2 separate regions of the Homo sapiens genome follow, and region 2 is linked to region 1. The links come from fine-mapping of genetic effects on gene expression. A gene starts in region 1. The other region holds a variant in brackets. All regions are shown on one strand. Distances are between the middles of the regions.

What was found. PIP is the estimated chance that this variant, and not a neighbour inherited with it, causes the effect.
Region 2: its variant is the best candidate, but not a certain one, in a credible set for the expression of RAB1B in whole blood (INTERVAL, PIP 0.79).

What each region holds. Positions count from the first base shown.
Region 1 is chr11:66,266,269-66,270,651 of GRCh38, reverse strand. It overlaps RAB1B (RAB1B, member RAS oncogene family), which reads right to left and starts at 2,013. Exons shown (of 6, transcript NM_030981.3): 1 at 1,959-2,013. The coding sequence starts at 1,972. It overlaps KLC2 (kinesin light chain 2), which reads right to left. Exons shown (of 16, transcript NM_001318734.2): 15 at 4,162-4,219; 16 at 2,792-3,779. The coding sequence ends at 3,696. KLC2-AS2 (KLC2 antisense RNA 2) reads left to right here and starts at 2,241. Exons shown (of 3, transcript NR_186342.1): 1 at 2,241-2,353; 2 at 2,444-2,597; 3 at 2,821-3,103. RefSeq lists enhancers at 913-1,794, 1,955-2,284, 2,405-2,454, 2,755-2,804, 3,561-4,383 and silencers at 2,915-3,234, 3,255-3,304.
Region 2 is chr11:66,191,592-66,195,974 of GRCh38, reverse strand. It overlaps PACS1 (phosphofurin acidic cluster sorting protein 1), which reads right to left. Exons shown (of 24, transcript NM_018026.4): 2 at 2,402-2,489. Among named protein-coding and RNA genes, the nearest start is that of KLC2, 64 kb to the left of the region's middle. The variant C/A (reference allele first, on the strand shown) is at 1,948.

The DNA.
Region 1 (4,383 bases):
TCCTTGGAGCCTAGGAGTGTATGACCAGCCTGGGTGATGCAGCACAACCCCGTCTCTCTTTTCTTTTGTTTTTTCGAGACAGAGTCTCGCTCTCTCACCAGGCTGGAGTGCAGTGGCACGATCTCGGCTCACTGCAACGTCCGACTCCCTGGTTCAAGTGATTCTCCTGTCTCACCCTCCAGAGTGGCTGGGATTACAGGCATGCGCCACCATGACTAGCTAATTTTTGTATTTTTAGTAGAGACGGGATTTCACCATGTTGGCCAGGATGGTCTCGATCTCCTGACCTCGTGATCCACCCACCTCGGCCTCCCAAAGTCCTGGGATTACAGGCCTGAGCCACCGCACCCGGCTAACCCCATCTCTTTGGAGACAACAACAACAACAACAACAACAACAACAACAACAACAACAACAAAAACCTGTTATGAAGTCACCAGGAAGAGGTGGTCAAGTTGCAGTGAAAATTGCACTTAAGGCTGGGTGCAGTGACTGACACCTGTAATCCCAACACTTTGGAAGCCCGAGGCACGAGAATCATTTAAGCCCAGGAGTTTGAGATCAGGCTGGGAAACATATCGAGACCCTGTCTTTACAAAAAATTAAAAAATGTGCCAGGTGTGGTGGTGTGCCTCTGTATTCCCAGCTACTCAGGAGGACAAGGCAGGAGGACTGCTTCAGCCCAAGAGTTGGAGACTGCAGTGAGCCATCGTCACGCCACTGCACTCCAGCCTGGGTGACAGAGAGAGACCCTGTCTCAAAATAAAAAAAAAAAAAGGCAAAAGGTAATCACATTTAATATACTTGAGTTCCAACCTGTGGACGGACCCTGTGTGAAGTACTTTAAATGCATCATCTCATTTAATCTTCACAACAGTTCAATGAAGTCAGTTTTGTCATTGTCAACTAATGAGGAAACCAGAGGCCAGAGAAGGGAAGTGACTTGCCCTAACTTACACAGTTTATCGCTTTAAGACTCAAACCAGGTTTCTCAGACTCCAAAGTCCCTTCGAGAGCCTGCTGGTTCCCTTCTCTGTTCCCCTCCCAATCCAGCTCAGAGCTTCACCCTTCCCCAAGGAAATCTGAGACCTGGATGTGGAGTAGAAAAAGGAAGTGGCAGAAAAGGAAGAAGATAACTGATACTTGGGGAAAACTATTAGTCCTGGGCATGAGATGTGGGCCACCTACCCGCAGGGGGAGTGACCAAGAGTGAGGAGAGTTTGAGGACCAGAGAATCCCACAGGAAGGGGGAGAGCAAATTCCATATTCATCTAAACTTCACAGGCAGTGTGACAGCCAAGGGAAGGGGTGTGACGGTGGCGTTGGGGGCCTGAGCAAAAGCGAGGAGAGGGCGGGAAAGGACGGACCGGCGGGAGCGACAGGACAGCGCGACCCAGGCAAAGGGTAGGAGGCAGCCCCGGAAGAGAGGACCTGCGGGAGACGCGACCCAAGCGGCGCTTCGGGGCCTCCCGCGTAGTTGGCTAGCTTCTGGGCCGGCCCCAGGAGCCGGGCTTCAGGAGAAAGAGAAGGGTAGAGGGATTCACTGCCCGACCTAAAGGGCCCAAGCCTGAACCCGAGACCAGAAACTATCAAGACGGGCTCCAAAACTCCGGGACAGTTGTCAAGCAGCAGGTGGGGAAACTGAGGCCTGAAGTGACCGGGACTGCGGGGTCATCTGACCGATAAGGCCTGGTAGGACCGATGTCTCGAGCTCCAAGAGCTGCCCCTGGGGGTCGCCACGTCTGGGCCCCGGGTGCGAGGGCTCGGGGTTTTGAGCCGGGGTCCTGGGGCCCCTGGGGGGAGGGGCAGAACCCGGATGTGGGGGGGGGTCAGCGGAAGAGGGACCCGGATGTGGGGGCGCCGCACAGTCCTGACCCGGGCCAGACAACCCCGGTAAGCGTACAGCCCTGTATTCGGGATCGAGGCTGCGCTGGACGGCGCGGGCGGGGCTCACTCACTATTCGGGGTTCATGGCGGCGGCGGCGGCCCGCTCGGTCGCTCCCAGTCGACTCTGCTCCGCCTCCCGTTCCAAGATGGTGGCCGCTCCGCCCCAGAGGCCCCGCCCGCGACGCGCAGGCGCAAACGTCTTCTTCTCAGGCCTCGCCGCGCTGATTCCCGGAACTTGTAGTCTAAGACGTTCTCCAACTCAGCCCCGCTGCGCAGGCGTAGTCGGGGAGCCCGCGCCTCCGCGCCCACTCCCATCACTGCTGGCGCATTGCCTTCTGGGGCTTGTAGTTTGCACTCCGGACGCACTCAGGCTTGAGGACAGTGCTGGAAAGCCTGACCGCGACTCGGTGTTTAGAAAGCTCAATTTAGGGCTGGGCTTGGCACGTTTCACATCTGTCTGACGGAGGTAGTCATCCTTGCCCTCCCAATACCCACGTTGTGAACATTAAATGAGAATGTGGGTTCTAGTAAGACTAATAAAAGTACATTTGTCCAGGGTTCTTCGTGTACTGGGCAGTCCTAACTCGCAGCCGCGCGTCATCACCCGCATTTCATAGATGAAAAAACTGAGTCTCGGGAAACTCACTCAAGGTCAAAAACTTTGTGAGGAGCAGAGCTCATAAGAGCCCGCGGTCTCCAGAACCCCACAAGTGAGTGTTTTAGGGAAAGCCTGACTTGTGGGCCCCTCACGCAATTCCGGGGTGGGGCACAATATCTGGGCCCAGCTGCGCGGACAGCGGTTGAGCGAGACACACTGTCCCCCACTCACGCACGACCCTTCCCGGCTCCACCCCAGTCTAGAGACGCTGGGGGCCCCCGACCTCCGTCTCAAAACAAGCCCAGCTCAGATTTAAACCGTCTTTATTTCTACAGCAACATCTGAAAATATGAGAGCAGCCGCCTCACCCGCAACAGGGGGAGCCCCTCCTGCCACCAGGGGACCGTCGCCGCCCCTCGCGAGAAGCTGCAGGCGTGGGGGGAGGCGAGGCAGGATGGCTCGGTGGGCGGTGCCCGGGGCGGGGTCGGCCGTGCCTGGGCGGGGCCGGGTGGGAGGGGCAGTGCATAAGGCCGGGATGCGGGGCAGGGCCCGGCGGTGGGAGGACGGACTAAGGGGAGGTCCCCGTCCTGGGCCACGGGGCGATGGCGCGGGTAGGACGCATCCCTCAGAGGCCAGGAGGAGCGCGAGAAGGTCCCAGGACCCCCTTGGGAGGCGCCGCTCCCGAGAATGTAGAGCCTGGGAGATACCACCGCACGGAATGGGGGTGATTAAGGCCTGGGCGGTACCACTAGAAGAGGGACGAGGGGAGGCCCGGGTAGTACCGTGGACTGAAGGGAGGCGCGCGGCCAATAACTTATTTCTCTATATACAGAAGCAACGGCCGGGTTGAGTCGGGAGGGAGGGCGAGGGTGCCGAAGGGCCGGCGAGTGCTTAGTGTTCTTGGCTCTGGGGTCTGGGGAGGCCAGGCCACTGAGTCTATGGTGGAGACTCCAGCCGGCACCTCCTGCTGGCCCGAACCTAGGGAAGAGGGCCCTGCTGGAAGGAATAAATAAGGGATGGAGCTGGAGTGGGCAGGCCCAGCCTCCAGGGCTCAGGCTGAGATGACAAGGGAGAAGGTTACCCTGAGATTGAACAGAAAAGACAGGGGCTGTGGGAGAGACAGGCGGGACAAGCAGCAGGCCCATGCGCAGGGCTGGGGTGAGGGGGGTGTGCCAGGTGGGCGCTCTGGTGACTGGCTGCCCCTTCAGCATTAGCCCACCAGGGAGCTTCGTCGGGAGAGGTCCATGGAGCTGGAGCTGAGAGTGCGGCTGTCAGAGAGACCTGTGCCTCCAGGCTGTGGGCAGAGGGGGCAGGTGGCTCAGCCCTGTGCTGCTGCCAGTCTGTGCCTCCCTGGCCTGAAGGGGTCTGACCTGGCAGAGGCAGCCGGAATCCCTGAGCTGGGCAGAGGCAATGGCAGTTCTGACCCAAGGCCACACCCTGGTGCCCTGACACTCCCGTCCATCTCCACAGTGACGGTGTTAGCACTGGCCGTTTACACGTCCACCCCCAGGAGAGGCTGGGTTCCCCTCGTGTCTCCCCGTTGTCCAGCCCAAAGTAGGCCTGAGACAGAGCCAGGAACTGTTGCTGGATGAAGAGGCATGCTGGAGGGAAGCTTGGCAGCACGCATGCAGCCCCGGCCGCAGCTGCCCAGTGCCCAGACACCCGCCTGCCCCTACCTGGGTCGGCTCTTCCACGCTCTTGTTGAGGAAGTTGAGGGAACTGGCCCGCTTCATCCTGAGGGAAAAGGACAGCCTGGGATTTGCCCAAGGAGGAACTCACGGGAGATGGGGGCAGGGAGAAGGGTGGGGCTGGGGAGGGAACAGACTGGTGGGTGGTGGAGCCTGAGAGGGATGGGGAGGTTGCCTGGGGTCAGTGGGGCACACTCTGGGTCAGGAGCT
Region 2 (4,383 bases), 75 kb after region 1:
GTACTTTCAGTGCAAAAGTCAACATGCTGAAAAAGGCAAATAATGCCACAGTATTATCATGAAAATAGTTGTGGCCTCCTGTACCCCCTGGAAGTGTCTTAGAGACCTCAGGGTCTGCAGATCTCCTTTGGGGAATTACTGCTCAACGCTTCTTAAAGGCAGGGATTTTTGTCTGTTTTGATCACTGCTGTATCCCCTGTGCCTAGAACAATGTTTGGCACATAATAGATGCTCAATAAGTATTTATTATATGAATGCATAAATAAGTGACTGAATAAATGAATGTGGTGACATCTGTAATTACTTTCAGCTGCTTGGAAGTAGAACAATTTAAAAATTCAAAATATTTGTAGTTTTGGTATAATTTAGAATTATAGAATCTTAAATATTTAATCAGGAAATAAATTATTTCTTTGGCAAAAGCATTTAGCTGCAGGGATGGCAAACGCAGTGGGGAACTTTCAAAACCACCCCAATGGTGTCGGCACAGGACAGCAACATTCTTTAGCAAAGGAAGCAATTCCTGAAAACGGGAACACTGCCTGTGACCTAGAAATGGGGACCAAAATCGGGAGAGGAGGACAAGACACTAATAGTTCACATTGCTGTCCCACACTTGCTTTCCCAACACAGTGTCTGGGAACATTTCATAGATTTGGAAGGAATTATGCATAAAATGAACAGGGAATTAGAATATAAGGTGGGACACACAGGAATTCATGAGTAATTAAAACATTTTAAGTTTTTGTTGTTGTTGTTTTGAGATGGAGTCTCATTCTGTCACCCAGGCTGGAGTGCAGTGGCACAATCTCAGCTCACTGCAACCTCTCCCTCCCAGGCTCAAGCAATTCTCCTGCCTCAGCCCCCTGAGTAGCTGGAACTACATGCACGCCTGGCTAATTTTTGTATTTTTAGTAGAGATGGGGTTTCACCATGTTGGCCAGGCTGGTCTCGAACTCCTGACCTTGAGTGATCCACCACCTCAGCCTCCCAAAGTGCTGGGATTACAGGTGTGAGCCACAGTGCCCGGCCCAACATTTTAAGTTTTGAGAACTAAATTATGTATTTGGGACTAACGTCTTTATCCCAGAAAGAGGCCGAGGCACCTCAATATATGATTCACACACTGAGAGTGATATAGAAGTGGATTTTAATGAAGGTGATATAGTACAATAAACTGCAGCATAGTAGGTGAACTAGCTAATAAAATATTCTGGTTAGTAGGGAGTTATCATACAGTTTGCTATTTTTCAATGAATAAGAATTCAGTAAATACACCATCCTTAAGCTGAAGACTCCAGTCATTATTTAGTGACTCCAGAGGCACTGCAGAATCTCACTCTACTCCAGGGAGTCATCAGCAGAAAGGATTAATCAGTTAAGGGAGGTCTGGTGATGGGATTTAATGAGCACACAAATTACCCACTCTTTAGTTTCTGGTCCAAGTTCTGTCGCTTGGTAATTAGCTGGCAACAGGTAAATTCCTGAGCCCTTCTATAATTCAGCTTTTCCCTTCTCTTTTCCTTAAATTCAGGAATACTTAAGAATACAAATGTTTGTGAAATATTTTGGGTCCCTTGAATATACCAAATGTAAGGAGTTATAAGTGGGATTTATATAGAGATAAAATATCCCAGTAAACTTTAAATTGCCAAGTCTGAAATAACAATCTGTAAGTTTCTTCCACCCTATAGAAAACCTCTGAAGTGCAGGCTGGGCGCGGTGGCTCACGCCTGTAATCCCAGCACTTTGGGAGGCTGAGGCAAGCGGATCATGAGGTCATGAGATCGAGACCATCCTGGCTAACACAGTGAAACCCTGTCTCTACTAAAAATACAAAAAAATTAGCCGGGCGTGGTGGCAGGCGCCTGTAGTCCCAACTACAAGGGAGGCTGAGGCAGGAGAATGGCGTGAACCCGGGAGGCGGAGCTTGCAGTGAGCCGAGAT[C/A]GCGCCACTGCACTCCAGCCTGGGTGACAGAGCGAGACTCTGTCTCAAAAGAAAATAAAAGAAAACCTCCAAAGTGCTTCCCATACCCGTGCATCTACCTGGATCTAGCAATCCTGGGACTAAGACTGAAACCAAAGCTAGCCAGCCTAGTAATTTCTGAGTAGTTTACAATAAACACTTTAGGATCTATATCACTTGATCCTCACAGTATGTGTAGGAAAAACCATTTCTGTTCTTCAGACAAAGATAGGTTTGAAGAAACTGAGTGCCCTAACCAAGAGGCAGAGCTGGGCTCAGAAGGTCCTGTGAGCTCTGTTATCTTTCCACTGTGCACCTTGCTGTGCTGAGAGGAGGAAGACAGAGGTGGTCCCAGTAGTGTTTCTGAAGCCGCAGCAGTGGGCAAATGGTTATCCAGCTTCCCTGGGCCCTGAACAAACAGTCCTGCCCCACTCACCTGCAGCTTCACAGCGATGACCACTGAGTTAAGATCTTTGTCCATTTCTTTTAGCATGACGAGTTTCTTCAGGGTCAAGCTGAATAGCCTAGAAAAACAGAGAAGGAAGATGCTGTCATATGCGAGGAACTTGCGAGAAAAGTGATGAACAATTGGTTAGGCAATCTGCCTTACCTGAAGTAAGAATGTGAGAACGCTGTCCTCAGTCCCAGGGGTCCCCTCTCTCAGTAGAAGAGCATCCCCTCTTACTTAATGTTTATACTTTTAAGAGATGGGTCTCACTATGTTGCCCAGACTGGAGCCCTGGGCCCAAGGATCCTCCCCGTCTTGGCCTCCTGAGTAGCTGGGACCACAGGCACATGCCACCATGCCCAGCTTCTAAAGTTAAGTGTCAAAAGGTACATTATTGCATGAACTTCCATGGATATCATTCATCTCAAGCCAAAGGCAAAATATTCTCCATGCCTAGTATGTTGGAGCCATTTCTGAGGGGGAAGAGGAGACCAAGGGAGGAGAATCACACAGTTCCTCTTCTACTTTCCACCTGATCACACCTGACAGATGTACAGATGTAAATCTTTAGCAAGAGGAGATAATCCACACAAACAAAACATACATCATTTGGCAGGAAATAGTTAAATGGTCACAAATTCTATTTCAGCTGCATTTTGCTCCAAATATGCAGAAAATCTTCAGTGCCACAAATCAAGAAATTCCCCGCAACTCAAAAGTGACAGGATTGTCCCTCACTGTGGAGTCTCAGTAACTCTGCTCTGACTTTACCTTGGCCTTACCACAGCAGGGCCACCCTGGACTTCCAGCAGGAGTGGGAGGGAGACTCTGGAAGCTGCCTTTCTATGGCTGCCTGGGTGGTCAAAGTCTTTACACATTCTTCTCCTGGGAGAGGTTCTGGGGAACGGTACACATGAGGGATGTTGCTTACCAGAGTCATGACAAGTCCAGAGAATCCGGCTGGATTTCATACCTCTTTTTTCCTCCGTGCTGAGGCCCTCTAGGCCCTGCTCAGGCCCCTGTCTTGCATCTCCACAGCCCTCCCTCAGCTCCAGCCACACTAACTTTCCTTTGGCTCCGTGGCAGTGCCACCCTCTCTCGCCTCAGGGCCTTTGGAGGCTGCTGTTCCTTCTGTTGGCACCACCCTGCCACCTAACGCCTCCTCAGCCTTGGGTTATGCATTTTTGCCAGGAGAACTTCCCCCGATGCCTTGCAAAGTCTGTGATGTGTCCCCAGCACAATTCCTATCATGCCACTGGAGTGTAACTTCCGGCGGGCAGGCAGCAGGCTTGCCTCTCCACCGCTCTCTCCCCAACATCTGCCCAAATGCTGGGCACAGTATATAGTTGCTCAGCAAATATTTGTTACATTAAGTTTCCTAAAATGGCTTCTAGCTAAAATCAGATTAACAAGAGTATGTGAAGAAATTAATATAATTCATGTTTTGTTTTTTTTTTAAAGGAGGACAAATCCAGGTCAACAGAACTAAATTCTGGTTTTGAATTAACCTCACTCAAGAACTTTCTTTCTTTTTTTTTTGAGACAGAGTCTCACTCTGTCTCCCAGGCTGGAGTGCAGTGGCATGATTTTGGCTCACTGCAGCCTCCACCTCCCGTGTTCCAGCAATTCTGCTGCCTCAGCCTCCTGGGTAGCTGGGATTACAGGCACCCACTATCATGTCTGGCTAATTTTTGTATTTTTAGTAGAGACCGGTTTCACCATGTTGGCCAGGCTGGTCTCGAACTCCTGACCTCAGGTGATCCGCCTGCCTCGGCCTGGCAAAGTGCTAGGATTACAGGCGTGAGCCACCACGCCCAGTCACCCAAGTACTTTCAAAGATCTGCTGACTAACACAAAGAAAAACAAATAAATCTCTTTCTTTGCTTTAAGCTAGAATCAAAATCAAATAAAATGTATGAAAGCTTATCAGGTCTCTTCATCTATATCATTTTACCTAGACCTCAAAAACA